7 linked regions of the Homo sapiens genome follow. The protein of the gene in region 1 purifies or fractionates together with the protein of each later gene. This does not show direct contact. Each region holds a gene or a part of one and is shown in the gene's direction. Other genes may lie near its edges.

Region 1 (4,334 bases):
AAAATAGACTGCTAGCCAGACTAATGAAGAAGAGAGAGAACAATCAAATAGATGCAACAAAAATGATAAAGGGGATATCACCACTGATCCCACAGAAATACAAACTACCATCAGAGAATACTATAAACACCTCTACGCAAATAAACTAGAACATCTAGAAGAAATGGATAAATTCATGGACACATACATCCTCCTATGTTTAAACCAGGAAGAAGTCGAATCCCAGTCGAAGACCAGTAACAAGTTCTGAAATTGAGGCAGAATTAATAGCTTACCTACCAAAAAAAGTCCAGGACCAGACGGATCCACAGCTGAATTCTACCACAGGTACAAAGAGGAGCTGGTACCATTCCTTCTGCAACTATTCCAAACAATAGAAAAAGAGGGATCTTTCCTAACTCATTTTATGAGGTCAGCATCATCCTGTTACCCAAACCTGGCAGAGACACAACAAAAAAGAAAACTTCAGGCCAATATCCCTGATGAACATTGATGCGAAAATTCTCAATAAAATACTGGGAAACAGAATCCAGCAGCACATCAAAAAGCTTATCCACCATGATCAAGTCTGCTTCATCCTTGGGATGCAAGGCTGGTTCAACATATGCAAATCAATAAACATAATCCATCATCTAAACAGAACCAATGAAAAAAACCACATGTATCTCAATAGATGGAGAAAAGCCTTCAAGGAAATTCAACACCCCCTCAGGCTAAACACGCTCAGTAAACTAGGTATTGATGGAACGTATCTCAAAATATTAAGAGCTGTTTATGACAAACCCACAGCCAGTATCACACTGAATGGACAAAAGCTGGAAGCATTCCCTTTGAAAACCGGCATAAGACAAGGATGCCCTCTCTCGCCCCTCCTGTTCAACGTAGGATTGAAAGTTCTGGCCAGGGCAGTCAGGCAAGAGAAAGAAAGAAAGGGCATTCAAATAGGAAGAGAGGAAGTCAAACTGTCTCTGTCTGCAGATGACATGATTGTATTTCTAGAAAACCCCATTGTCTCAGCCCAAAATCTCTTTAAGCTGATAAGCAACTTCAGCAAAGTCTCAGGATACAAAATCAGTGTGCAAAAATCACAAGCATTCCTATACACCAATAGCAGACAAACAGAGAGCCAAACCATGAGTGAACTCTCATTCACAACTGCTACAAAGAGAATAAAATATCTAGGAATCCAACTTACAAGGGATGTGAAGGACCTCTTCAAGGAGAACTACAAACCACTGCTCAAGGAAATAAGAGAGGACACAAACAAATGGAAAAACATTCCATGCTCATGGACAGGAAGAATCAATATTGTGAAAATGGCCACACTGCCCAGTGTTATCCCCATCAAGCTACCATTGACTTTCTTCACAGAATTAGATAAAACTGCTTTAAATTTCATATGGAACCAAAAAAGAGCCTGCATAGCCAAGACAATCCTAAGCAAAAAGAACAAAACTGGAGGCATCAAGCTACCTGACTTCAAACTATACTACAAGGCTACAATAACCAAAACAGGATGGTACTGGTACTAAAACAGATATATAGACCAAAGGAACAAGACAGAGGCCTCAGGAATAACACCACACATCTACAACCATCTCATCTTTGACAAACCTGACAAAAACAAGCAATGGGGAAAGGATTCCCTATTTAATAAATGGCGTTGGGAAAACTGGCTAGCCATATGCAGAAAACTGAAATTGGACCCCTTCCTTACACCTTATAAAAAATTAACTCGAGATGGATTAAAGACAAACGTAAAATCTAAAACCATAAAAACCCTAGAAGAAAACCTGGGCAATACCATTCAGGACATAGGCATGGGCAAAGACTTCATGACTAAAACACCAAAAGCGATGGCAACAAAAGCCAAAATTGACAAATGGGATCTAATTAAACTAAAGACCTTCTGCACAGCAAAAGAAACCACCATCAGAGTGAACAGGCAACCTACAGAATGGGAGAAAATTTTTGCAATCTATCCTTCTGACAAAGGGCTAATATCCAGAATCTACAAAGCACTTCAACAAATTTACAAGAAAAAAACAACCCCATCAAAAAGTGGGCAAAGGATATGGACAGACACTTCTCAAAAGAAGATATTTATGCAGACAACAAACATGAAAAAAGCTCATCATCACTGGTCATTAGAGAAATGCATATCAAAACCACAATGAGATGCCATTTCACACCAGTTAGAATAGCAATCATTAAAAAGTCAGGAAATGACAGATGCTGGAGAGGATGTGGAGAAATAGGAATGCTTTTACACTGTTGGTGGGAGTGTAAATTAGCTCAACCATTGTGGAAGTCAGTGTGGCGATTCCTCAGGGATCTAGAATTAGAAATACCATTTGACCCAGCCATCCCATTACTGGGAATATACCCACAGGATTATAAATCATTCTACTATAAAGACACATGCACACGTATGTTTATTGCAGCACTGTTCACAATAGCAAAGACTTGGAACCAACCCAAATGCCCATCAATGATAAACTGGATAAAGAAAACGTGGCACATATACACCATGGAATACTATGCAGCCATAAGAAAGGATGAGTTCTTGTCCTTTGGACGGACATGGATGAAGCTGGAAACCAACATTCTCAGGAAACTAGCACAAGAACAGAAGACCAAACATTGCATGTTCTCACTCATAAGTTGGAGTTTAAGGATGAGAACACATGGACACAGGGAGGGGAATATCACACGCCTATCGGGGGGTGGGGGCTAGGGGAGGGATAGCATTAGGAGAAATACCTAATGTAGATGACAGGTTGATGGGTGCAGCAAACCACCATGGCACTTGTATACATATGTAACAAACCTGCATGTTCTCCACATGTATCCCAGAACTGAAAGTATAATAATAAAAAAATAAAGATACATTTTCTTGCCTAGAACCTTGCTTCTGCTAAGATTACTTTCAAAAGTAAGATTTATTCCAAGGGTAAGAATAATGAACTGTAGTGATACCAGCATTCCCAGAACTATCCGTGGTAGAAGCTAACTGGCATGTTTGAAGACTGCAAGGCTCTAGGTTGAGCAGATAATTTATTGTCTAAATGGAGCTACTTCTAAGAGTGAAGGAGGGTGTTAATCTCACTGGAGCAAGAAGCATACATACCATCCTGGAAAAACCTGGACATAGTTGACCATCACTAGACAGTCCCTAAAATTCCACCTTTTGAGATTCACTTCATAAGGGGTGAGAAGATTTTTTAGTCTTTAAGAAACTTATGTTAAAGTGTAAGCTGTTCTGGGATCTGTGACACCCTAAGCCAATGGTTGATAGCCTTCCATGCACATAAGGTTCCCCAGAGTCATTTGTTCAGCATGTGGGCTCTTGGTCCCCACTGTCAGTCATTGATTCTGTAAGTTTAGGGCAGGTTCCAGAATTCTGCATTTTAATAACAGAGTAGTTCTGAGCACAACTGAGTAAGCACTGTCTTAGGTCAGTGTTTCCCAAACTATGTTTTCACGTGTTGTGCAAGATATAAATACATGATGCAAGGGGAAAGGAGTTCTGCGGTCAATTACTTTGGAAACTTTGTGTTAAACCTGTTGTCTTAGTCATTTCCGGCTGCTGTAACAACATACCATAAACATGGTGGCTTATAAACAACAGAGATGTATTTCTCACAGTTCTGAAGGCTGGGAAATCCAAGATCAAAGCGCTAGCAGATTTGGTGGCCATGAGCCATTTCCTAGCTCATAGATGGCCATCTTTCTGCTGTGTCCTCACGTGGCACTAGGGGCAAAAGAGCTCTTTGAGGCCTTTTGTGTAAGAGCACGAATCCCATTCATGAGGGTTCTACCCTCATGACCTGATCACCTCCCAAAGGACCTACCTTCAAACACCATCACATGGTTTCAACACATGATTTTTGGGTGGCATGAACATTCAGTCCATAGCACCTGGTTAAACAGGCATTTTTTTGTTTTTAATGACAGTGCTTCTAAAAGTCCTGCCTCTTAAAGGGACTTTATGTGGGTGGCATTTTACAAGTTTGAGCATGGGCCCTTTAAGAGACACTAACATTTTGAAATATGCAGCATTCCAAGGCAAATGCTGCTCTAGACACATACCCAGTTCTTTCTAGATGATTGCAATAGCTGAGACCAAGGTCCTGCAGAAACAGTACCGAGGGTAGGAACTAAATCTATGAGGAGTTGAAATGAGACTGGCTTAGGGAGGTGGGAGTCCTCATAGAAACTTCCTAGGGGCTGTACTTTGGTTAAGCTTCATAACCATGCATTGGGTGGCTTCATTCTCTCCTCTCTTTTCCTGCCGTGCCTAGGACTGAAGCACAGTTATAGAATTAACCCTT
Region 2 (4,609 bases), on another chromosome or scaffold:
TTCAGTATGCATGTCTGACAGAAAAATAAATTTTTAAAAATCTTAACCCCAGTACCATTACCCCAAGGCTCCAAATTAACGGATATTTCTTATTATCCTTTGGTTTGCACTCTGAGTTCAGTTTTCCCAGCTGCAGTCTAAGTTCAGTTTTCCCAGATTGCCTTAAAAATGTATTTTAACATGGCCAGGCACGGTGGCTCACACCTGTAATCCCAGCACTTTGGGAGGCTGAGGCGGGCAGATCACCTGAGGTCAGGAAGTCAAGACCAGCCTGGCCAACATGGTGAAACCCCGTCTCTACTAAAAATACAAAAGTTAGCTGGGCATGGTGGCGCACTCCTATAATCCCAGCTACTTGGGAGGCTGTGGCAGGAGAATCACTTGAACCTGGGAGGCGGAAGTTGCAGTGAGCCAAGATCATGCCACTGCACTCCAGCCTAGGCGATAGAGCAAGACTCCGTCTCAAAAAAAAAAAAAAAAAAAAACAGAAAAAGAAAAAAACGTCTTTTAACAGTTGGCTTGTTCAAATCAGGATCTAAGCAAGGTTCATGTGTTGCTTTTGGTTGATATTTTGGTCTCTTATTATCTCTAAAAAAAATTTTACTGAGATTTGATTCACATACCATGCAGTTTATCCATTTAAAGTATACAGTTCAGGCCAGCTGCAGTGGCTCACGCCTGTAATCCCAGCACTTTGGGAGGCCAAGGCCAGTGGACCACGTAAGGTCTGGAGTTCAAGATCAGCCTGGCCAACGTGGCGAAACCCTATCTCTACAAAAAATACAAAAATCAGCCGGGCATGGTGGCAGGCACCTGTAATCCCAGCTACTTGGAAGGCTGAGGCAGGGAGAATTGCTTGAACTGGGAGGTGGAGGTTGCAGTGAGCTGAGATTGCACCACTGCACTCCAGCCTGGGCGACAGAGGGAGACTCTGTCTCAAAAATAAGTAACTAAAGTGTACAATTCAGTGGTTTTAGTATATTCTCATATTCTTAAATCTCTTAGTCTATAGCATTTCCCTCACTCCCCTCCTTTCCCCATACACTTACCCATTGAAGAAACTCTCATTTTGTTCCGTAGCATTTTCTGCACTGGCAGATTTGGCCAACTCATCATGATGGCATCGTTCAGCATTCCTCTGTCCCCCATGTTTCCTGTGAGCCGGGAGCTAGGTCTAGAGCCTTAATTAGATCCAGGTCCAGATTATTTATTTATTTATTTTTTGTATTTATAATAAATAATCTAGACAGGTCCAGATTTTTTGGCAAGAATAATTTATAGTGCTTTATATATTTCCTATATTTATATCACAAATCATATGATATTATAAAATAGTGATGCTGAGATTAATTAGTGGGTTCACATAATGGTTTTATAACCAGTGATTGTGGTTGCCTGGCTCCATTATGTCATTAGTGGGTTGCAGAATAGAGATACCCTAATTTTGTCTTTTCTTTTTTTTTTTTTTACATTTATTAGCTATGATTTTTTTTTTTTTCAGAATAGCTATCCTAGCAATCTCTATAAGTGACCAGTGATTTTTTTTTTTTTAGTATCATTTTGAACTCAGGGTTTTTTATATATTTGTATTTCATTCCATTATAGTCATGCTTTTTGCTGCCAAATTCATCCCATCTTTGGATAGTAGGAGTCCCTTCAAATTGGCTCCTGTGCCTCTTTTACAAGAATTTTAGGTTTTTGATCACTTTTGCTTCCAGGCATAGGATGTCCCAGGTTCAATTTGTAATTTTCTTGCTTAAAACCTGGAATCTGGCCAGGCACAGTGGCTCATGCCTGTAATCCCAACACTTTAGGAGGCTGAGGTGGGCGGATCACTTGAGGTCAGGAGTTTGAGACCAGCCTGACCCACATGGCGAAACTCCGTCTCTACTGAAAATTCAAAAATTAGCTGGGTGTGGTGGCACGCGCCTGTAATCCCAGCTACTTGGGAGGCTGAGGCAGGAGAATCGCTTGAAGCCAGGAGGTGGAGGTTGCAGTGAGCCAAGATTGCACTGCACTCCAGCCTGGGTGACAAGAGTGTGACAAGAGTGAAACTCCGTCTCAAAAAAAAAAAAAAAAAACCCTGGAATTAGTTACTTCTCCAAGAAGCTCTGATTTCTTTAGTGGGGAAAGTGAATTGTGGAGTGCTTATTGCTATCATGTTGCCATTGTTTCTAGGTCTTTTTAGTGGAAATAGCTAGGAAATAGGCATTTTTTTAGGAGACAAAAATAGTAAGTTTATCCTGATAATTTCCAGTTTAAATAAAAAATGGTACAATATTTTTACTTAATTTTCGATTTTGTATTTCTATCTTTTTGTATCCCCCAAAAAGATACATTTGTACCCAAAAAGGTACATTGTACCCAAAAAGATACATTAGTGACATTAAAATTCTTATTTGCAGCTGGTCTGATGGTAGTGGGTTATCAGGACTTATTAACATTAGTGTCACTGAAGTTGGTATACAACCCCCCACGCTAAGTTTGACTGGCTTTAAAAATAATAATAAATAGGTCGGGCACGGTGGCTCACGCCTGTAATCCCAGCAGTTTTGGAGGCCGAGGTGGGCGGATCACAAGGTCAGGAGATCAAGACCATCCTGGCTAACACAGTGAAACCCCGTCTCTATTAAAAAATACAAAAAATTAGCCGGGTGTGGTGGCGGGTGCCTGTAGTTCTGGCTACTCAGGAGACTGAGGCAGAAGAATGGTGTGAACCCAGGAGGCGGAGCTTGCAGTGAGCCAAGATCGGGCCACTGTAATCCAGCCTGGGCGACAGAGCGATACTCCGTTTCAAAAATAATAATAATAATAAATAATTTAAAAATTAAAATTAGAGAAAAGAAAGAAAAATATTTTTCAAAAATTTTATTATTTGCTTTCTCCTACAGAATGTACTTTGTAGTAGTGACATTAAAAGACATTAAAATTATTTGCTATACAGTGATATTAAAATTGTTTGCTGTAGTAACATTAAAATTGTAGTGACATTAAAACTATTATTTGCTTTATCCTACGGAATGTACTTAATAGTATCAAAATAACAATGCTCTTGTTATTGCCAATAACACTATTTCTTTTTGCTTCTTTATATAATTTTTTTCTTAATGCTTTTAAAATTTTTTTATACTTTATTTTTATTTTTTAGTTTTTTAATAGAGATGAGGTCTTGCTATGTTGCCCAGCCTGGTCTTAAACTCCTGCTCTCGAGTGATCCTCTTGCCTCAGCTTTCCAAAGCTAAGAATTTTTTTGAAGAGCATAATTTGACCCTCAGTTTCTAAGAAGTAGGAATGGTAATGGGATGCATAGCCTGCCATGTGGCTGTTGGATGGACCAGAAAACCTTATACTCTAGGGCCTATAGGAATATCAAGTATTTTTATTGATTTCCCCTGGTATGTAAGCAGCAGCTTATGGGATCAGTGTGATGGTTAAGGAAAATTACTCAAAGCCCATGTTCAGGGCCAGGTGCAGTGGCTCATACTAATAATCCTAACACTTTGGGAGCCTGAGGCGGGAGGATTGCTTGAGCCCAAGAGTTCAAGAACAGCCTGGGCAACTTTGTGAGACTTCATGTCTACAAAAAATAAAAATACATTAGTCTAGTGTAGGGGCTCACACGAGTGATAAGTAGTGAAGCTAGGATTTGAACCCAGGGTTCAATCTCCAGATTCCAAGCCTTTGTGTCTGGCTCCAGATTCCAAGCCTTTCATCACTACACTGTGCTGCTGCTTATAGGAGATAGTCTCACTCTGTTGCCCAGGCTAGAGTTCAGTGGCACAATCTCAGCTCACTGCAACCTCTGTCTCCCAGGTTCAAGCGTTTCTTGTGCCTCAGCCTCCTGAGTAGCTGAGATTGCAGGCGTGAGCCACCGCGCCCAGCCTTAAACTGAAAATTATCCACTACATGGTAGAAGCACCATATAATGTAATGGTTTCTACAGTCTTTAATTATGATAATACAGATATCTCAAAGTAAGTTCTTACCTTGTATAGACTCAGCCAATTTTTTTAAAACCACACAATCCTATTTATACTTTCAAAGCCTTTTTCTTACCATTAATATTAAAAAGGAATTGGACTCTCTTTAGTGTGTGTACATCTGGAATGAAAGTCTTCATCAAATTAAATGGAGCCCCTTTGATATTAGATAACAGTGCCGACATGAGCAGGGTTCACCTTAGTTCAGAATTACCAGCTCTGTCTGGGAGAACTGGAATACATATTAATAGTAACTTACCTGCCAGGAGTTTATGTCACTCTTAAAATCCTGTAGCCTATAGAGGAGATTCCTGTCAGTCCGGTTTTCACATGCTGATAGAATTAATTGAGTTTAACATTATAAATACTGTCCTCTTCTCTTTTAACAGTGCATGACTCCTGATCAGCTGATGACATTATGCAAAGCAGGCATTCATAGTAGTAATGTCGGGGTTAGAGTGAATGTCGTTAGCATTTTAGGAATCACTGGCAGCGTCCTTGCCAAAGAAGATGGTACACTTGAAACTCTTAAGGTAAAACAATTTGCTTCTGACCTAACATGTTAAATAATTAGAAATGGGAGAAGAACTGTTGGTGTAGGATTTCTTAAAACTTGTGTGGACTTGAAG
Region 3 (3,327 bases), on another chromosome or scaffold:
GAGTTTGAGACTAGCCTGGGCAACATAGGGAGACCCTGTCTCTACAGATAATTTTTAAAAAGTTAGCCAGGTGCACCTATGGTACCAGCTACTTGGGAGGCTGTGGCAGGAGGATCGCCTGAGCCCAGGAAGTCAAAGCTGCAATGAGCCATGATCCCACCACTGCAACTCCAGTCTGGGTGGCAGAGTGCAAGACCTTGTTTCCAAAAAAAAAAAAACTTTGCATGTAAATATGGATGTTGTCACTTTCTACTGTTGTTATTCACTGTAAAACTCATCACATTTTAATTGAATTATGTAAACATGGGAATAGTATTTAAATATGACAGCTTTGAAATCCTAATGCATTCTATTATGGTGTGTTTTAGGTCCTGGATGTTCTGACCAAAGGGAAGCAGCAGGCATTCTTTGTGCCACCAAGCCGAGCTATTGCACATCAATTAATCAAACACTGGATTAGAATAAATCCTAATCTCTAAATCTAAGAACTAAGCTTTGAGTATTATTTAATAATTTCTAATAACACTCATTCCTCAAGTGATATTAGAGATTATTCAGTACTCTTGAGAGTGTCACAACACAAAATACGATGTTGGGTTTTCGAAATATTTTCAAAGTGTTCTGTCTTAATCACAAATTCATATTTTTACACATTTTTACAATATTGCCTCAGATTATGTTAAATTTGGGTCAGTCTTCTCTGAACTTTTTCTCTCTTGGTTTCTTTTCTTCCTTCACAGTTTTATCTCACAAAACCATTTTTCTAATAAGAGACATCATGTTGGAAAGATGTTCTAGAAATGTGCATAAATTTCAGTGCCTCTTGTAAGCATTAAACTGATGATGAAGAAAGTTCCTGATTTGAGAAATGAATCAAAGTAATTTTAATGAATTTTTAGCTTGTATTAGCTTGAGTTAGCTGGCATTGATTTTTTAGTCCTTTTGTTACCTTTAAGTTGTCAATATATGGTTTTTGTTCATCTCCCCATTGTAGTCCCACTTGCTCTTTCCTGGGGGTTCCATTGTTCTAGCAGTGGAGGTGTTATAGTGTCGCCACTCGTCTAATTTGACCAGTGTTAAGAATTTTCTAATTTAATAATTTAATAGTGATCTCAATACCACACCCTCATGGAAGGAGAAAAGCATACTATTATATCTGGGACCTCTCTTTTAGACCTAAAATTAATTAACATATCTACTTATATGTTACTTATACCTAAAGCTGTTATTAAGACAAACCAAGATTCTCTGCTTTTGCACTGAAATTAAACTTGAAAGGAATTCTCCTCAAAGGTCGGATATTAAATAAGTCCCAGGCAGATTTACATATTTAATTTAAAACATTGGCTTTATTTCATTTTGTGATGAGTGATGTATCTGTGTTAACAAAAAATTGTATAATCATTACCAATACTATTTATTATGCTCAAATATATCTTGGCTTTGACCTTATTTCAACACATTCTAAGAAGCCTTGACAAAGTAAGTATATTTTAGAGCTGAATCAGTAAGATTCTAGAGAAAGCAAAACATAGTAGTTCACAATTTTGCAACATAGAAAGTCACATTTTGAAAGGCTATTTTGAAATTGATTTAATAGCTATTATAGTTTATGAATATCAAAATTTGTATAATTTGCATCTTTACTAATGTATGCTAGAGCTACAAGAGACCTTAAGGATAATATATGAAATTAGCTTTCCTTATTTTATAGATAAGGAAAAAGAAATTGTGAAAGGTGAATTTACCTAATTAGTGAAAGTTACATAACTAATTACAACAGTCTGTACTATATAATGCAGAGGACGATTCTCCCTGTAAAAGGAACTAGAAGCTATTACTAAAAATATATATAGACAAAATTAAAAGAAGGAATGATAAGAATAAATTTAATTTACCAAATATTGTTAATTAAAATTTTAGATACTTAACATTTATTTAACTTAAATAAAAGATAACTGTCAGATAAAACTTTATTTTACTAATGAGCAGTGATTTTCTTAGGAATTGATGAAGGCTTATTGGTATCAAGAATTTAAACCAAATTAAAACTGACAGAGGACATTTAGATACATAATAAAATTCGAGCTACATAAGTATATGGAAAATAATGTACCTTGATTATTATGAAATAGAGCATCTTGAAATTCAGTTTTACTCTAAATGTACTTTTAATACTTGCAGATTCTAAGATTACATTGTAAAATTCCAGGTTTTCATAATGTTAAAATAGGAAAGTAGAATATAAAGTATCAACAAGTGTAGTTATACATTTTGTTTTGGATATTTAATCCTTACTTGGGAAAAAATCAGCATCTAGGTAAATTATTATTTTAATAACAACTCTTAAATTGCCAACCTCTGAGAGGTGAAAAGCTATGTAAATAGAAGGAATGGCCAGTTCAAAAGAATAGTAGATGTGATAGTGCCGTGAATGTATTCTACTGGAAATGAATGTAATAATACATTAAATTTTTAAAATCTATTTTGTTTTGTGTGTGTGTTTAACATGTTTTGACAAGTGTCCTGAAAAATGAGAAAAGCTGGATTTCAGTCGTTAACCTGTTTCGAATTGATAATGTACAAGAAATGCAAAAGCCTTTTTAAAAGTGTCTGTGTTTGGGAGACTTAAAACTTTGATTTGAATCTTAAAGTATAGTTTGGGGTCAAATACAAACAGACTTACATATATACATACATATATAAAGTCAATAATTTTTGTTCTTCAGGTTTAAAGCGATATATCTAATTTTTATTACTTGTCTAATACTGCTAATTGTTGGATTTTGATATTTTCACATGTTGATGGAACATGAAGAGTTAGAAGCCCACATATTTTATTTAGTTGGAAAAATGAGAAATTCTTTTAAAGACCCAGTTAGGGATTTGGCTGAAGACAGAAAATAATAGGATAACAAAGGGAGAGACCAAGATGGAAGGAGGAAGAATAAGTTTGTTAATAAGCCAAATTAATCCCACATAACAACAATAGATAGCTGGTCCTGGAACTGTGTTGCTAATGTGGATACAACAAAATATTAGGTGAAGATGTTCTATAAAACAAATCCATTAATTATTTAGAGTAAAATTTTCACAGTGAAAATTTTATTAGGGCTGAGACCCAGTTATTAGGTTCTGGGGGGGGGGAGGGAGGGGGAGAAAGAGAGAGAGAGAGAGATGGGTGGTGGGTATTGAGTGAAATTTGTGTATTTGTTGAGGTTAAAAGGGGCTGTTATCTCTATTAGAAAAAAAAATATGTAGGACAAAATAAATCCAATGTGCAAAATTAGGAGTCTCTATCTTCAAATATATAAGATCTAGGTCCTG
Region 4 (4,051 bases), on another chromosome or scaffold:
TCACATGTATTCATTTAAGCCAAACGTATCCCTCTCAGAAACAAAAGTTCTAGTAAATAAGTAACTTAAGGATCAAAGTTGTCTTTTCTAAGATTGCCAAATCTCTGTTCCCATTTTTTTAAACCAATTAATAAATCAGGAAATAAAATATTGACAAACATCTTTATGACTCCCTATATCAAAGAGTTGTTTTCTTCTTTTTACTTTTTTTCCCCATACCTAGAGGACAGTATTTTTTTTCTTTTTTCTTTTTTCTTTCTTTTTTGTTTTGCTTTCTAGAGACAGGGTCTCACTCTGTCACCCAGGTTGAAGTGCAGTGGCACAAGCTGAAAGCTCACTGCAGCCTTGACCTCTGACCTCCCTTGCTCCAAGTGATCCTCCCACCCCAGCCTCCTGAGTAGCTGACACTACAGGCATGTGCCATGCCCTGGCAAATTTTTTATTTTTTATAGAGATGGGGGTCTCACTATGTTGCCCAGGCCAGGCTTTAACTTCTGGCTTCAAGTGATCCTCCCACCTTGGCCTCACAAAGTGCTGAGATTACAGGCATGAGCCCTGCTTTTATTTTGAATTATTCATAGCAAATACTGTGAACCTAACGCTTTGAATTTGTTAACATTTTTCTTTTTTTCTTTTTTTTTTTTTTTTTGAGATGGAGTCTCGCTGTCACCCAGGCTGGAGTGCAGTGGTGCGATGTCTGCTCACTGCAGCCTCCACCTCCCGGGTTCAAGCGATTATCCTTCATTCACCTGCCTCAGCCTCCTGAGTAGCTGGGATTACAGGTGCACACCAACACGCCTGGCTAATTTTTGCATTTTTTAGTAGAGACAGGGTTTCACCACATTGGCCAGGCTGGTCTTCAACTCCTGACCTCATGATCTGCCTGCCTCGGACTCCCAAAGTGCTGGGATTACACGCGTGAGCCACCATACCCAGCCGGGAGAATGCATTTCACATTGCTTATGCAAGTCCAGGACTGTCCTCTAGCATCACAGTTAAAATAAAAACCTAGAGCAAATGCTAATGTTTTCACTTTCTTTCTTTTTCCCCTCCTTTTCTCAATAGGATCCAAGCAAAACTCCCTGGAATCGCCAAAAAAAAGGCAGAATAAGTACATGGAAACCAGAAATGCAACAGTTACTAAAACACCATTTAATAGTTATAACGTCGTTACTTGTACTATGAAGGAAAATACTCAGTGTCAGCTTGAGCCTGCATTCCAAGCTTTTTTTTTAATTTGGTGTTTTCTCCCATCCTTTCCCTTTAACCCTCAGTATCAAGCACAAAAATTGATGGACTGATAAAAGAACTATCTTAGAACTCAGAAGAAGAAAGAATCAAATTCATAGGATAAGTCAATACCTTAATGGTGGTAGAGCCTTTACCTGTAGCTTGAAAGGGGAAAGATTGGAGGTAAGAGAGAAAATGAAAGAACACCTCTGGGTCCTTCTGTCCAGTTTTCAGCACTAGTCTTACTCAGCTATCCATTATAGTTTTGCCCTTAAGAAGTCATGATTAACTTATGAAAAAATTATTTGGGGACAGGAGTGTGATACCTTCCTTGGTTTTTTTTTGCAGCCCTCAAATCCTATCTTCCTGCCCCACAATGTGAGCAGCTACCCCTGATACTCCTTTTCTTTAATGATTTAACTATCAACTTGATAAATAACTTATAGGTGATAGTGATAATTCCTGATTCCAAGAATGCCATCTGATAAAAAAGAATAGAAATGGAAAGTGGGACTGAGAGGGAGTCAGCAGGCATGCTGCGGTGGCGGTCACTCCCTCTGCCACTATCCCCAGGGAAGGAAAGGCTCCGCCATTTGGGAAAGTGGTTTCTACGTCACTGGACACCGGTTCTGAGCATTAGTTTGAGAACTCGTTCCCGAATGTGCTTTCCTCCCTCTCCCCTGCCCACCTCAAGTTTAATAAATAAGGTTGTACTTTTCTTACTATAAAATAAATGTCTGTAACTGCTGTGCACTGCTGTAAACTTGTTAGAGAAAAAAATAACCTGCATGTGGGCTCCTCAGTTATTGAGTTTTTGTGATCCTATCTCAGTCTGGGGGGGAACATTCTCAAGAGGTGAAATACAGAAAGCCTTTTTTTCTTGATCTTTTCCCGAGATTCAAATCTCCGATTCCCATTTGGGGGCAAGTTTTTTTCTTCACCTTCAATATGAGAATTCAGCGAACTTGAAAGAAAAATCATCTGTGAGTTCCTTCAGGTTCTCACTCATAGTCATGATCCTTCAGAGGGAATATGCACTGGCGAGTTTAAAGTAAGGGCTATGATATTTGATGGTCCCAAAGTACGGCAGCTGCAAAAAGTAGTGGAAGGAAATTGTCTACGTGTCTTGGAAAAATTAGTTAGGAATTTGGATGGGTAAAAGGTACCCTTGCCTTACTCCATCTTATTTTCTTAGCCCCCTTTGAGTGTTTTAACTGGTTTCATGTCCTAGTAGGAAGTGCATTCTCCATCCTCATCCTCTGCCCTCCCAGGAAGTCAGTGATTGTCTTTTTGGGCTTCCCCTCCAAAGGACCTTCTGCAGTGGAAGTGCCACATCCAGTTCTTTTCTTTTGTTGCTGCTGTGTTTAGATAATTGAAGAGATCTTTGTGCCACACAGGATTTTTTTTTTTTTTTAAGAAAAACCTATAGATGAAAAATTACTAATGAAACTGTGTGTACGTGTCTGTGCGTGCAACATAAAAATACAGTAGCACCTAAGGAGCTTGAATCTTGGTTCCTGTAAAATTTCAAATTGATGTGGTATTAATAAAAAAAAAAAAAACACAAACAATGACTGTGGCATCATTCTGCTAACTTTATTCTTTATACACAGTTTGGGTAAAGTAAGAACCAAACACTGCTTCCACTCCCCCTATCCTCACTCCACTTTGGGGACTTTAAAAAGTGACTAATAGTTGGTACTCGTAAGGATTCCCAAGACTGCAGAATTTAGTTGTACAGCATAACTGTGCATTTGATCTCTGAAAGAAAATAAGAGACCCTCTAAGAGGTGGTGACCTTAGAAGAATGAGGAGGGGTCAGGGGGTCTTTTACCCCAGTTCAGCCTCACACCAGCCTGGGAGATTTTCCCACCTGCAACGCAAAGCAGCCTGTAAATTACATATAGCCACAATACACTTAAATTGAGTCAATCACCGTGGAAAATGGGAACTAAATACATCATCAGGTCTTCATTGAAAGAACTTGAGTGGTCACCTGTGATTAGCTCTTCTCCTAAACTAAGGCTGCTGTGACCCTTAAGCTGGCTTTTAAAAATGTATTCAACATACCTCTTAGAAAACTTAGGCTGAAATATTTTTTAAATGACTGATGCAAACAATTTCACAAATACGCATACAAATGTTTGAATAATGTCACTAAGTAACATGGTATATAAATATGTATTCAGAGTAACATTTACATATTGGCCATAATAGCAAGCATACCATTAACAACAACAACAAAAAAAATCATGAAGAGACTTCACCTGTTCATGTCAGAATCCCAAGGCAAGGAGGCACACCTAGGCAAGAGGGCCAACTCAACTTGCAACGTCTAACCTGTGAGGCCATAACTTCCATCAAAGCAGGAATCAATGGAATCACTACCGCAGCCCTTCCCTTTCACTGGTGCCCGGCACTTCAGCTGCATCAAGATCAATGGAGGGCTCATGAAAACACTGCTAGGCCCCAACCAAGTTTCTGATTCAGTAACCCTGGGGTATGGCCCAAGAATTTTTATTTCTAGCAGATTCCTAAGGTGATGCTGCTGGTCTCAGGGACACACTTTGAGAGCCACTGGTGTGTTTGGGGCTGTCTCAGTAAAGATGTCCACTCTCCTGAGGCCTCTCTCTGCCTACGGAGGGGGGGGAATCTAACCCCTCTGCCCTGGCTTATCCGAACTTTGGCAGTGGGCTTGAGTGATTATAAATTGGTTCCCCCAATTTGCCTACTGTTTTTGAATGGGCAGAGTAAAAAAAGTGGTGTTAATACTCTGGATCCGAAAAAATGCATGAAGGAAAGTAAAAGAATGGCAGTGCCC
Region 5 (4,609 bases), on another chromosome or scaffold:
TCATTGAAACAGCTATATTTCTTTTTCAGATTAGTGATGATGAACCAGGTTATGACCTTGATTTATTTTGCATACCTAATCATTATGCTGAGGATTTGGAAAGGGTGTTTATTCCTCATGGACTAATTATGGACAGGTAAGTAAGATCTTAAAATGAGGTTTTTTACTTTTTCTTGTGTTAATTTCAAACATCAGCAGCTGTTCTGAGTACTTGCTATTTGAACATAAACTAGGCCAACTTATTAAATAACTGATGCTTTCTAAAATCTTCTTTATTAAAAATAAAAGAGGAGGGCCTTACTAATTACTTAGTATCAGTTGTGGTATAGTGGGACTCTGTAGGGACCAGAACAAAGTAAACATTGAAGGGAGATGGAAGAAGGAACTCTAGCCAGAGTCTTGCATTTCTCAGTCCTAAACAGGGTAATGGACTGGGGCTGAATCACATGAAGGCAAGGTCAGATTTTTATTATTATGCACATCTAGCTTGAAAATTTTCTGTTAAGTCAATTACAGTGAAAAACCTTACCTGGTATTGAATGCTTGCATTGTATGTCTGGCTATTCTGTGTTTTTATTTTAAAATTATAATATCAAAATATTTGTGTTATAAAATATTCTAACTATGGAGGCCATAAACAAGAAGACTAAAGTTCTCTCCTTTCAGCCTTCTGTACACATTTCTTCTCAAGCACTGGCTATGCATGTATACTATATGCAAAAGTACATATATACATTTATATTTTAACGTATGAGTATAGTTTTAAATGTTATTGGACACTTTTAATATTAGTGTGTCTAGAGCTATCTAATATATTTTAAAGGTTGCATAGCATTCTGTCTTATGGAGATACCATAACTGATTTAACCAGTCCACTATTGATAGACACTATTTTGTTCTTACCGACTGTACTAGAAGAAACATTCTTTTACATGTTTGGTACTTGTTCAGCTTTATTCAAGTGGAATTTCTGGGTCAAGGGGAAAGAGTTTATTGAATATTTTGGTATTGCCAAATTTTCCTCTAAGAAGTTGAATCATTTTATACTCCTGATGTTATATGAGAGTACCTTTCTCTTCACAATTTGTCTCTTTTTTTTTTTTTTTTGAGACAAGGTCTCTGTTGCCCAGGCTGGGGTGCAGTGCAGCAGAATGATCACAGTTCACTGCAGTCTCAACCTCCTGGGTTCAAGCGATCCTTCCACCTCAGCCTCCTGAGTAGCTGGGACTATAGGTGTGCGCCACCACTCCCAGCTAATATTTTTATTTTGTAGAAACAGGGTTCGCCATGTTACCCAGCCTCCCAAAGTGCTGGGATTACAGGCATGAGCCACTGGCCCAGTTTCTACAGTCTCTCTTAATATTGTATATTATCCAAGAAATTTCATTTAATCAGAACCTGCCAGTCTGATAGGTGAAAATGGTATCTTGTTTTTATTTGCATTTAAAAAAAATTATGATAGTGGTATGCTTGGTTTTTTTGAAGGTATCAAATTTTTTACCTTATGAAACATGAGGGCAAAGGATGTGTTACGTGGAAGATTTAAAAAAAATTTTTAATGCATTTTTTTGAGACAAGGTCTTGCTCTATTGTCCAGGCTGGAGTGCAGTGGCACAATCACAGTTCACTCCAGCCTCAACATCCTGCACTAAAGTGATTTTCCCACCTCACCTCTCAAGTAGCTGGGACTACAGGTACATGCTACCATGCCTGGCTAATTTTTTTTTTTTTGCAGGCATGGGGTCTCACTATATTGCCCAGGTTGGTGTGGAAGTTTAATGACTAAGAGGTGTTTGTTATAAAGTTTAATGTATGAAACTTTCTATTAAATTCCTGATTTTATTTCTGTAGGACTGAACGTCTTGCTCGAGATGTGATGAAGGAGATGGGAGGCCATCACATTGTAGCCCTCTGTGTGCTCAAGGGGGGCTATAAATTCTTTGCTGACCTGCTGGATTACATCAAAGCACTGAATAGAAATAGTGATAGATCCATTCCTATGACTGTAGATTTTATCAGACTGAAGAGCTATTGTGTGAGTATATTTAATATATGATTCTTTTTAGTGGCAACAGTAGGTTTTCTTATATTTTCTTTGAATCTCTGCAAACCATACTTGCTTTCATTTCACTTGGTTACAGTGAGATTTTTCTAACATATTCACTAGTACTTTACATCAAAGCCAATACTGTTTTTTTAAAACTAGTCACCTTGGAGGATATATACTTATTTTACAGGTGTGTGTGGTTTTTTAAATAAACTCCTTTTAGGAATTGCTGTTGGGACTTGGGATACTTTTTTCACTATACATACTGGTGACAGATACCCTCTCTTGAGCTACATCGGTTTGTGGGGAGTCAAAAGTCCTTTGGAGCTAGGTTTGACAAATAAGGTGGGTTAACACTTGTTTCCTAGAAAGCACATGGAGAGCTAGAGTATTGGCGAATTGAAGAAATCCCCCTTTTTTTTTAACACACTTAAGAAAGGGGACTGCAGGTATACTCAAGAGAGTAAGTCGCACCAGAAACCACTTTTGATCCACAGTCTGCCTGTGTCACACAATTGAAATGCATCACAACATTGACACTGTGGATGAAACAAAATCAGTGTGAATTTTAGTAGTGAATTTCATTCATAATTTGATCGTGCAAACGTTTGATTTTTATTACTTTAGACTATTGTTTCTGATTTTATGTTGGGTTGGTATTTCCTGTGAGTTACTGTTTTCCTTTAAAATAGGAATTTTTCATACTCTTCAAAGATTAGAACAAATGTCCAGTTTTTGCTGTTTCATGAATGAGTCCTGTCCATCTTTGTAGAAACTCGCCTTATGTTCACATTTTTATTGAGAATAAGACCACTTATCTACATTTAACTATCAACCTCATCCTCTCCATTAATCATCTATTTTAGTGACCCAAGTTTTTGACCTTTTCCATGTTTACATCAATCCTGTAGGTGATTGGGCAGCCATTTAAGTATTATTATAGACATTTTCACTATCCCATTAAAACCCTTTATGCCCATACATCATAACACTACTTCCTACCCATAAGCTCCTTTTAACTTGTTAAAGTCTTGCTTGAATTAAAGACTTGTTTAAACACAAAATTTAGACTTTTACTCAACAAAAGTGATTGATTGATTGATTGATTGATTGATGGTTTACAGTAGGACTTCATTCTAGTCATTATAGCTGCTGGCAGTATAACTGGCCAGCCTTTAATACATTGCTGCTTAGAGTCAAAGCATGTACTTAGAGTTGGTATGATTTATCTTTTTGGTCTTCTATAGCCTCCTTCCCCATCCCCATCAGTCTTAATCAGTCTTGTTACGTTATGACTAATCTTTGGGGATTTGTGCAGAATGTTATTTTAGATAAGCAAAAACGAGCAAAATAGGGGAGTTTAACTTTAATATTTTCTTTTAAAAAGCATTTCATGTTATAAGATCAATTCTGAGTGGTAGAAATGCTTTGACATTTTATTTCCATTTTCTACTTTTAGTTTTTTTCCTATTTGTTTAAGATCTTAGAGGATTATTAAGCTGAACTCCTCAACTGATAAAAAGCATGACATCTTAAACATAAGCAAAGCATATTTTTAGGTTAATTTTCACATAGAAAACAGTTTATTTTATGTGAAATTCTATGTAGATATACTATTTTTTTGGTATTTATTGATATGTTTATTTTATTTTATTTTATTTTATTTTATTTTATTTTATTTTATTTATTTATTTTTTTTTTTGAGACAGAGTCTCACTCTGTTGCCCAGGCTGGAGTGCAGTGGCATGATCGTAGCTCACTGCAACCTCCACCTCCCGGGTTCAAGCAATTCTTCTGTCTCAGCCTCCCGAGTAGCTGGGACTACAGGTGCCTGCCACTATGCCCGGCTAATTTTTGTGTTTTTAGTAGAGATGGGGTTTCACCTTGTTGGTCAGGCTGGTCTCGAACCCCTGACCTCAGGTGATCCACCCACCTCAGCCTCCCAAAGTGCTGGGATTATAGGCATGAGCCACCGTGCCCGGCCGACATGTTAATTTTTTAAAAAAGGCTTTACTGGGGTATATTTTATATAATATAATAATCACATGTTTTAACTATACAATTCCAAGCTTTTTAGTATATTTATAGGGCTATGCAAGGAAGATATACTGTTAAACAGTAGAAATTGAGAAAGCTCTTCTGATAATATCTCTTGATTTGATGATGGCTCATGCCTGTAATCTCAGTGCTTTGGAAGGCCAAGACAGCAGAATCACTTGAGGCCAGGGGTTCGAGACCAGCCTGGGCAACACAGCAATACCCTATCTTTACAAATAATAAAAATATCTGTTGATTTGAAGTAAAGTTTTTTTTTAAAGACAAGGTCTCATTCTGTCACCCAGGCTGGAATGCAGTAGCAAGATCACAGCTCACTGTGGCCTTGACCTTCTGGGCTCAAGTGATTCTCCCACTTCGGCCTCCCGAGTAGCTGGGACTAACAGGTGTGCACCACCATGGCTGGCTAATTTTTTTTTATGTTTGTAGAGATTGGGTCTTACTGTGTTGCCCAGGCTGATCCCGAACTCCTGGGCTCAAGCAGTCTTCCTGCCTCAGCCTCTAAAA
Region 6 (4,609 bases), about 97 Mb from region 1:
GAGCATAAAGCTGAATTAGGAAAAGTTGTTGAAAGTGAGTAGGTAAACAGCTTTGTGTCTGCCCATTTTACTTCTGCCGCCCAACTTTGTGCTTTTTCCTGGCCAAGAGTGACCTCCTGTCTGTCCAAGTCTCATTTGAGTTCCGGGTGATGGGTCCACAGCTCTTGAGTTTATAGAATAATTCTATTTAGAAACCACTGACTCCACACAGACTGGTTTTGCTGCCCTAAAATGCCAGATTAAGGAGAATGAGACATCAGTAACATCTGATTTTAATACCCAAGTAAATTGTTACTTTGAGGTCTTGTTTGTTCCTCCACTCATTTATCAGCTTTTTTTTTTTTTTGAGACTGAGTCTCGCACTGTCACCCGGTCTGGTGTGCAGTGGCATGATCTCTGCTCGCTGCAACCCCTGCTTCCCGGGTTCAAGTGATTCTCCTGCCTCAGCCTCCCGAGTAGCTGGGACTATAGGCATGCACCACCATGCTCAGCTAATTTTTGTATTTTTAGTAGAGAGGGGATTTCACTGTGTTGGCCAGGCTGATACGGAACTCCTGACCTCGTGATCTGCCGGCCTCTGCCTCCCAAAGTGCTAGGATTACAGGTGTGAGCCACTGCACCCGGCCTCATCAGCTCTTTAGTGAGTGCCTTCTGTGTAAAGGCACTATAGCAGGCAGCACAGATAGAAGTGAATATCAGGGTCTTTGTCCTCAGATACTCAGTCTAATGGGGGAGACAGATGTACCTACTGACGAGGGCAGGAGGGGACCCAAGGGAGAAAAGGTCACTTCCAAGCTGGGATAATTCAGGAAGAACTTCACTTGAGCCGAGTCTTAGAAGGAGGATTGGATCTCTTCATTCATTTGTCTGATGTGTATTAAGCATCACTAGTGCGGAGCACTTTGCTAGGAGCTGGGAAGATTAGTGGTTAACACAGCGTCTGCCTCAGAGCCTATAGTCTTGTGAGGGAGACAGGTATTAGACAGGTAAATTCACATGAACCTAGAAGAATGCATTGTGATAAGTGCCCCAGAGGAAAAGAACAGTCATTAGAGAGGATAATAGGAAGGAGTGTGTGGCTGGTGGGTGTTTGTGTAGTCCTTTCTGAGCAAGTGACATTCAAGCATTTTCTACTGAACATAATTTATGAACATGACAGAACATTCAAGTGGGACAAAGAACTATAAGAAAAGTCTCCTTCACATCCCTCCAGAGTAACCACTGTTAAGAATTGTTTGTATTTTTTTCCAGAAAATGTGTTATGATAAACTTTCACGTATCTCCTTCTCTGTCATCTAGTTACCCCTTTAAAAAAAACACACAAATGAGCTCATGCTATACATAATATTCTTCCCTTACTATTAACTCGTTTTGAAGAAGTGTTTATATCAGCTTACGTGGGCCTATAGAATTTCTGTAATAATAGCAAGCTGTACAGAATTGTATTATGTGGCTACACCATGCTTGCTGACCCATTCTTCTTCTGATGAACATCTTGTTTTTCATATTTTGGTAACAAATGTGTCTTGGTCTACTTGTATAAATACGTACTTCATTTAGATAAATTCTTAGCAGTGGAATTTCTGGATTAAGGTGTACACGTTTCGGCCAGAATTCTCTGTTGCAAGCAGTTGAGTCACTGGATGATTTAAGGAAGAGAGGGATTTTTGAGAAAAGTATAGCAGGTGGCTCACAATGTAGTTGGGAGGGCAAGAACTGGGTTTGGGGCCAAGAACAGTGTCTCAGTCTATGCTGCGGGCACAGCTGGTGCCGGACCCTGGCTGCCACAGAACTGAGCCTTCCTGCCATCCCTTCCACCACCAGAGAGTTCCTCATGGGGAAGGTGGGTGCTTCTGATTGGTGAAGCTCAGCCTCAGCTCAGATGGCAGTGGAATTCTCCGGACAGAGGCAGGAAATACAGCTGCTGGGCAGCCCAGAAAAGGGACAGTGCATTTTACCTTTTGAGAGCTATTGCCAAATTGCTGTCCAAAAAGCTGGCACGAGTTTATACTCCCACTAGAGAATACAAGGACGCTTGTCTCCCACCACCTCACGGATGCTGAGTATTTTTGCCAGTCTGATGGGTGAAAGTGGGAAGAAAGAACACTTAAACGCCTGAGGGATGAGTAGGAATTTGCAATGCACCCCTTACCCCCGAGGGATAGACCTCAGGCCTGTGGTGCACAAGGGCTCCGTGTGGTTAAGCACTGAAAGGCCAGAGTTTGCTGCATGGGTGCGGCAGGAGCAGTGAGTGGGGGTGGGGCAAGGGACCCATGCAGGGGGTGCAGCAGAAGCAAAGATGGGGAGGGTGGAAGAGGGATGGATGTTGGGAGTTTGGAGCAGAGGCAAGGCTGGAAAGCAGGCCTCGGGGGTCCAGACGCTGCAGGCAGAGCTGTTTTGATTTTGTCCTGGAGGTCTCCTGCTCTTTCAAGCCAGGGAATGAGAGGATTAGGTTCGCTTGTTAGAAGGAGCAGCTGACAGCTGTGGGGAGCAGTGGCGTGAGAGGCCTGGGGCAGGGAGGGAGCTTGCATCCTGGCCAGAAATGTTGAGGGTGAGGACGAATCCAGTGGTGGTGGCGGTAGGGATGGCCACTGTCATTACAGAGACCTCTCAGACAGCAGCTAACCCCTGGGCCACATCCTGGGTTTCTGTCGTCATTCTCTCCTGGCGTTCCTCAGCGCCAGCTCCTTGCGGCTCTTGGCTGCAGTGTTGCAGTCACGCCTTCATTTGGGGCCATCTCCCTTTTCAGTTGGGCTCTAGGCCCTTTTTCTCATCTCATTTCCTGTTCTTCCTTCCCTTGTGCCCTGGGCTTCAGTGGCAGCAGCCCCCTCGCCCTCCTCTGAAGAGAGCCTAACAGCTGTTGCTGCCTCCTTTCAGAAACACATTTTCTGCCTGGAGTGTTCCTCCTCCTCATCCTGAGTGTGGCCCAGAAGCCATTCCCTCCTGGCTGCCCCTGGCGGAGTTAGCAAGTCCCTGCCAGGAGTGAAGCAGGATCCCAGGACTCCCGCCTTGGCCCCACTTTGCTTCCCCTAGGCATTGTCCCTCCTGCCCCTGCACAATTCTAGACCTCTGAGAGCAGCTTCTGTGCCTCACTCTCAGGGTCTCACGGAGCCCTGTGCAACTCAGTGAATATTTGATGGTGAATTAATTTTCTGATTCTCCAACTTGTTTGTGCTAAAGAATGTCTGAAACTTAGTGTTAGAAACCTTAGCCGCTGTTCATTGTTTGTGAACTAGCAGTTTGCAGCACCCCTGGAATGCAGTTGGTTTAGATTGTGTTCCATTTGTGTGGTCCCAGTTTAGCTGTAAAGTGTTGTAAATGTGACAGGTCCTTTTACTTTTTTTTTTTTTTTTTTGGTTAAAGCTTAGTATTATTTTGAATTTAAAGCATATTTATGGGAATGTCTCTGTGCCAGAGTCTGCTGGGTGCTGGCACATTATTTTCAGTTAAAATTCAGTGTAAGGGATGCTATTATTGCTATTTTACTGACGAGAAACCTGAAAGTTAGAGAGATTTAGCAACTTACCTAGTGTCACTCAGCCCCATAAGTGACAAAGCTGGGATTTGAACCCTTGTCTTCCATCTCTGGCAAGCCCCAGTACAACACAGCTGCTGTGATTTTATCATCCTACAGATGTGATTTCACTTAGCTATTAAGCCTTGCTTCTGAATACTAAAAATATTTATACAGATTCCCGAAGGGCACTTACTGGATTTTGTATTTTTGACTGTTCTCTGCATAGGTTCTCTGTCCTGCATGTTGAAAACAGTATTTACTGAAACAGCCTTATTGCAGCAAAGGAAATTAAACTATATATATGCATATATATCTCCACAATTTTACTACCCAAAAACAACGTGATTTTTACTTTTTGTTTCTTTCCAATCCAAGTCCATTGTGAAGAGGAGCTCTTTACAGAGAATGTAAGATCACGGTTTTGTACTCGCCTGGGCTTTGTCTCTGTGGCTCTCTTAGTTTCTTTCAGCCATTGTTCCGTGGTCGTAGCTGTGCAGGGCTGGCTTTCTTCCTAATCTGAGTTTGATTTTTGTTGTTTTGTCTCTTTTTTCTTTCCCTAACCTTCTTTCACCCCTCCCCTCCCTGCCTTCTTTACCCTTTCCTTTCGAGGGAGTGAGGAGTTGGGTATTGAGAGAGAACTCAGAATTGCTAAAATTTGGTGGTTTTTTTTTTTTTGAGATGGAGTCTCACTCTGTTGCCCAGGCTGGAGTTAAGTGGCTCGATTTTGGCTCACTGCAGCCTCCACCTCCTGGGTTCAAGTGATCCTGCCTCCGCCTCCCAAGTAGCTGGGATTACAGGCGTGTGCCTATAATTAGCCACGCCCTGCTAATTTTTGTATTTTTAGTAGAGACGGGGTTTCACCGTGTTGGCCAGGCTGGTCTTGAACTCCTGATCTCAAGTGATCCACCCGCCTCGGCCTCCCAAAGTGCTGGGATTACAGGCATGAGCCACTGTGCCTGGCTGGATTTTGTTTTAACTCATGCTTATTATTTTGAGTGAGCTACAAACCAAACCTCACACTCCAGATAAAATAGAAGGTCCTCCTAAATGAAATGCCTCCATGGAACATTAGCATTCACTGTGGAATCAAGG
Region 7 (4,609 bases), on another chromosome or scaffold:
GTTGTAGATTTTGGGCTAGTCCTACTTGAAATTACAAATATAGAATTAGTAAATGGCGTAAGAGCTTTTTTATTTTACTTCCATCAGCTAGCTGAAAGTAAGGTTCTTCAGTATTGAGGGATTTGCATTGTTGACTTGAATACACTTTTAGGGAGTATAGGTATCAGTTTCTCATGTCTCCTTGCCTTCATTTGTTCAGAGTAACAAGGTAAAGTATGTGTTTTCCTCTCATATTCTATAGGTGTTAGTGGTCTGTATGACTTTGGGCCAGTTGGCTGTGCTTTGAAGAACAATATTATTCAGACCTGGAGGCAGCACTTTATCCAAGAGGAACAGATCCTGGAGATCGATTGCACCATGCTCACCCCTGAGCCAGTTTTAAAGTGAGATCTTACTTTGGAGTGGGGGTATCCTACTTTAAATAAAATAACTTATTAAATTATTTAATATACTTATCTAAATAACTTCCTGATTATAAAGAACTACTCATTTCATGTAGAAAATCTGAAAAATATGGAAAAGCAAAGAAATGTATACCTTCTGCTCACAGATAGCTATGTTAAGATGATTGTGTTTGTCCTTCCTGTTTTTTCTGTACGTCCCTATGTATTTCAGTGTTAGCAGTACACTGCTTATTTTCATGTAATATTGATGAACATATACTCATATCATTAACTATTCATCTAAAGCATTTTTAATGATAGCATAGTATTCTGTTTTATGGAAGTGCCATAATATGTTAGTTTGTGCCATATTGAAAGCATTAAAGTGTTTCTCATTTTTGACTGCACCGAATATCTTGATAGATGGATTTTTGGGTATATCCTTGATTATTTCCTTAATACAAGTTCTGAGCAAAGGTATACTTGTAGAGATTTTCAGTTAAATACTATTTGTTTTAAAGTTTCAATGCAGAAACTTAGATTATTCCTACCAACGTTATTGAAAGTAGGGCAGAATTTCCTTTTTTTGTGTGTGTGAGATGGAGTCTTGCTCTGTCGCCCAAGCTGGAATGCAGTGGCTTGATCTCGGCTCACTGCAAGCTCTGCCTCCCAGGTTCACGCCATTCTCCTGCCTCAGCCTCCCAAGTAGCTGGGACTACAGGCACCCACCACCACGTCTGGCTAATTTTTTTTTTGTATTTTTAGTACAGACGGGGTTTCACCATGTTAGCCAGGGTGGTCTCGATCTCCTGACCTCGTGATCCGCCCGCCTCGGCCTCCCAAAGTAGGGCAGAATTTCAGAATGTGAAACTGAAAGGAATTCTTTTATTTATTTATTTATTTTTTGAGATGGAGTCTCGCTCTGTCCCCCAGGCTGGAGTGCAGTGGGGCGATCTCTGCTCACTGCAAGCTCCGCCTCTCGGGTTCACGCCATTCTCTTGCCTCAGCCTCCAGAGCAGCTGGGACTACAGGCACCTGCCACCGTGCCTGGCTAATTTTTTTGTATTTTTAGTAGAGACGGGGTTTCACCATGGTCTCGATCTCCTGACCTCGTGATCCGCCTGCCTCGGCCTCCCAAAGTGCTGGGATTACAGGCGTGAGCCACTGCGCCCGGCCTGAAAGAGGAATTCTTGCCATTTTGTAACTCGTCATTATTCATTTAAGGTTGACTGGTGGAGAGCTAATTTTTACTATTGGCATCCGTTAGGTTCTCTTAATAATTTCAGCCAATGAAGAGGAGGAATTCTGAATGATGGCTCTATAAGATCAGGACTACCTATCATTTTAGCTACTTGTTCCACCAATAGGAACTTTGTAGAGATAATACCAATGTCAGTACAGGTTTCAGTGGCAGAAAACACTTCCCTTAAGGTTCAATGTCTATACTGAGCTGCCATGAATTCTTAACTAGTCAAATTCCCAGTGATTTTGGCCTTTGCTTAGATCACTAATAATAATGGCATAGGCATGGATTAATTGATCCTGAAGAATAGTACAGACTTTATGACAACTTGTAGAAAAGAATTGTCTTTTTATTGTCTAGTTAATGTCTTCTTTCTTATGGGAAGGAAGAATGTGGGAGAGGGTGAGAAATAGATTTGAGGAAGAATTTTCTCTGGCATCCATTACTGTCATGGATACATCATTACTATAGATATGGGAGCTTCCATCTTTGAGATGGATATAAATATTGATGGGGAATTATCTTATAAGGTAATATCTATGTGTAATTTGTATGAGAATGACAAATTGGGTTGGCATTTGTTAATTTAGGACCTCTGGCCATGTAGACAAATTTGCTGACTTCATGGTGAAAGACGTAAAAAATGGAGAATGTTTTCGTGCTGACCATCTATTAAAAGGTGAGGTTCTTCATCTCCTTCAGGTAGGATTGATCAAAATAAAAGGTTTAAACTTTCTCTCAGATGTCTTTCATTAAATTTTTTATTGAGGCATAACATTCAAAGAGCAAAGTGCACAGATCTTAAGTATATAGATCAAGTCCTTTATTTTTTAAAAAAGTTATATGTAGATAATTAGTTATATACAGATAATTTTTCTAATTAGCAAATGAATCAAGACAATACCATGACTGCTGTTGTAAAATCAACTGTGGGATTCATGTAAATTAAGAACTTTATGCTTGGATTTACTTTTTAATTGTCTAGCATTGAAACTGAAAAGTGCATTGTCCTTTTTCCCATTGATTGATATATGTCAACACTGTTCTTACAGCTCATTTACAGAAATTGATGTCTGATAAGAAGTGTTCTGTCGAAAAGAAATCAGAAATGGAAAGTGTTTTGGCCCAGGTGAGTACTCTAGAGATGTTATCAGAGTAACCTAGGTGGTCGCTGTCCTTCTTTCAGTGTTTAATGACTGTTGCATTTCCCATTATGCTGACCCTGGCCACATTGTAATGAAGCAGAGGTTAATTCTGTCCTGTATAGCGTCTCTTTTTTTGCATTTTTATTTTCTTCTCTCTTTTGTGACTAACCCTTTATTTCAGCCCAAACTAACAAGTCCGTGTTAATAGGCATTCAATTTGTCTGACCTTGGAAACTACTTTTCTGGATTTAATAGCTAAAACCACAGGAGTGACTGATGATGGGTAGTGTTCAGCACTGGTGTGGAGACTTCGGGGCAGATAACTTGATGAGCACTTTCTCACTGGCTACTTGATCTGCCTCTGCTTGGACCCTGATTTCATGCTATTATTCTTAGAACCTCATGAGCAGGTCCTGACTTTTCTGTCCTTGCTTTTCTCAGTTTGCCTATAGGCCTAAAGTTTTATAATTTGTATAATATTTAAGCTGACAAATTTTAGAGAAGACAAAAAAGAGACCACAGAGATAATTTATTCTGACCTTTTACCAATTGCAGGAATACTTTCTATATTAGAAGTAGTTCTTATCCTTTTGTTGGGTCACAGACCACCCTAAGAATGTGATCAAAACTGCACGTCTCCCTGGGAAGATGCATGTGCTCATGTATATATGTTGCTGGTGTCTCACCTCATCTGTTGGCTATTCCGTTTAGGCAAAGTACATTTCTCCAACACCATGTTTAGTCATGAGGTCTACTGAGGCTCACCTCTTAAATTTTATTTACTTCCTTGGGCAAAAAACAAAAAACCAATACTGTGATTATACCTATTTTCTTTACACCGATCTCTCTCTCTCTCTCTGCCTGAATATAGAACTCCCTAATATGTTGTTTTTCATGGGAATTACTGGATACTTTTCCACTGTTGTCCTAATTTTTTTTTTAGCATGCTTTTTTTCTCTGTGATAGTTAACTTTCCAACATAGCTAAAATAATTTCTCCTTCTTCATTTACATTGAAAACTTTCTTAATTTGGCTGTTGAATCATCTGCTGATTTATTTTGATACTTGTGGAGTGTAATTTTATCCCTTGCTTGAAGCTCATTGTTTTAGTAATTACTCATGGTTTAGAAAATTATTTCTTACATTTTGATACTGTTGAAGCCACACGTTCATCTCATTTTCTTATCCAAAGGCATGCCCTTTATTAGAAAAAATGGAAAATGCCTCTAAGTATCCCTAAAATTTTCCATTCAGAATTTTAGATTTACTGAGGTTTTGTGTATATGTTTTTGATCTTAACAGTATTATTCATTTCCAAGTACGTTGTCAGAGTTGGGAAGTAACTAGTTGATTTGACAAGTCAATTTATTGTTTGAGCATTGGCCTTCTCTCTTATTTCAGATCTGTGTTCTAGGAGAGCAATTTGTTTTTTGACTTGCCATATCAGATGCATGTACAGCTGTCAATATAATCTTCAATGAAAAGTAAGGGACCCATGGGAAATGGTGTAGCACTCAGAAATGGCCCTGGTGGATTCACTGGCTGAAAGCCCATCTGTTGCTTAAGCACAGAGTAGCGTTTTCTGCACCTTAGTGTCTGACTCCTTTTCAGCTTTATGAAGCATCATTGTTTCTTTAAAAGGCCCTGATTCACCTTCTGTGGTAGGAAGACCTCTACTCCTATTATGTGGATTTAACAGCTCAGAACGAATTCTTTTGTTTCTCTTCTCTGTCTGTTTTTGTGGCCCATCTCTGGATGTTCCAGTTTTAAAAACCATTTTTAACTTGTTTATGAAAAATTCAAAACATACAAAATTTTATATGTTAAATAAAAACATA

Evidence for each region.
Region 2: the proteins of TEK (region 1) and HEATR3 purify together in Homo sapiens (affinity purification with mass spectrometry, with the first as the bait; one large-scale study listed by BioGRID). This does not show direct contact.
Region 3: the proteins of TEK (region 1) and NUDT12 purify together in Homo sapiens (affinity purification with mass spectrometry; one large-scale study listed by BioGRID and IntAct). This does not show direct contact.
Region 4: the proteins of TEK (region 1) and RTN3 purify together in Homo sapiens (affinity purification with mass spectrometry, with the first as the bait; one large-scale study listed by BioGRID). This does not show direct contact.
Region 5: the proteins of TEK (region 1) and HPRT1 purify together in Homo sapiens (affinity purification with mass spectrometry; one large-scale study listed by BioGRID and IntAct). This does not show direct contact.
Region 6: the proteins of TEK (region 1) and PSMB7 purify together in Homo sapiens (affinity purification with mass spectrometry; one large-scale study listed by BioGRID and IntAct). This does not show direct contact.
Region 7: the proteins of TEK (region 1) and GARS1 purify together in Homo sapiens (affinity purification with western blotting; one study listed by BioGRID). This does not show direct contact.

Annotation. Positions count from the first base shown.
Region 1 is NC_000009.12:27,223,853-27,228,186, forward strand, and holds part of TEK (angiopoietin-1 receptor isoform 1 precursor), read left to right. Parts: intron 1-4,334. UniProt on the Homo sapiens protein: Tyrosine-protein kinase that acts as a cell-surface receptor for ANGPT1, ANGPT2 and ANGPT4 and regulates angiogenesis, endothelial cell survival, proliferation, migration, adhesion and cell spreading, reorganization of the actin cytoskeleton, but also maintenance of vascular quiescence.
Region 2 is NC_000016.10:50,095,861-50,100,469, forward strand, and holds part of HEATR3 (HEAT repeat-containing protein 3), read left to right. Parts: intron 1-4,369; coding exon 4,370-4,513; intron 4,514-4,609. UniProt on the Homo sapiens protein: Plays a role in ribosome biogenesis and in nuclear import of the 60S ribosomal protein L5/large ribosomal subunit protein uL18 (RPL5). Required for proper erythrocyte maturation.
Region 3 is NC_000005.10:103,548,013-103,551,339, reverse strand, and holds the end of NUDT12 (NAD-capped RNA hydrolase NUDT12), read left to right. Parts: intron 1-368; coding exon 369-479; 3' UTR 480-2,485; downstream 2,486-3,327. UniProt on the Homo sapiens protein: mRNA decapping enzyme that specifically removes the nicotinamide adenine dinucleotide (NAD) cap from a subset of mRNAs by hydrolyzing the diphosphate linkage to produce nicotinamide mononucleotide (NMN) and 5' monophosphate mRNA.
Region 4 is NC_000011.10:63,757,091-63,761,141, forward strand, and holds the end of RTN3 (reticulon-3), read left to right. Parts: intron 1-1,065; coding exon 1,066-1,111; coding exon of another isoform or gene 1,112-1,301; 3' UTR 1,302-2,792; downstream 2,793-4,051. UniProt on the Homo sapiens protein: May be involved in membrane trafficking in the early secretory pathway. Inhibits BACE1 activity and amyloid precursor protein processing. May induce caspase-8 cascade and apoptosis.
Region 5 is NC_000023.11:134,473,330-134,477,938, forward strand, and holds part of HPRT1 (hypoxanthine-guanine phosphoribosyltransferase), read left to right. Parts: intron 1-29; coding exon 30-136; intron 137-1,851; coding exon 1,852-2,035; intron 2,036-4,609. UniProt on the Homo sapiens protein: Converts guanine to guanosine monophosphate, and hypoxanthine to inosine monophosphate. Transfers the 5-phosphoribosyl group from 5-phosphoribosylpyrophosphate onto the purine.
Region 6 is NC_000009.12:124,397,756-124,402,364, reverse strand, and holds part of PSMB7 (proteasome subunit beta type-7 precursor), read left to right. Parts: intron 1-4,609. UniProt on the Homo sapiens protein: Component of the 20S core proteasome complex involved in the proteolytic degradation of most intracellular proteins. This complex plays numerous essential roles within the cell by associating with different regulatory particles.
Region 7 is NC_000007.14:30,600,818-30,605,426, forward strand, and holds part of GARS1 (glycine--tRNA ligase isoform 1 precursor), read left to right. Parts: intron 1-241; coding exon 242-383; intron 384-2,216; coding exon 2,217-2,305; intron 2,306-2,678; coding exon 2,679-2,755; intron 2,756-4,609. UniProt on the Homo sapiens protein: Catalyzes the ATP-dependent ligation of glycine to the 3'-end of its cognate tRNA, via the formation of an aminoacyl-adenylate intermediate (Gly-AMP).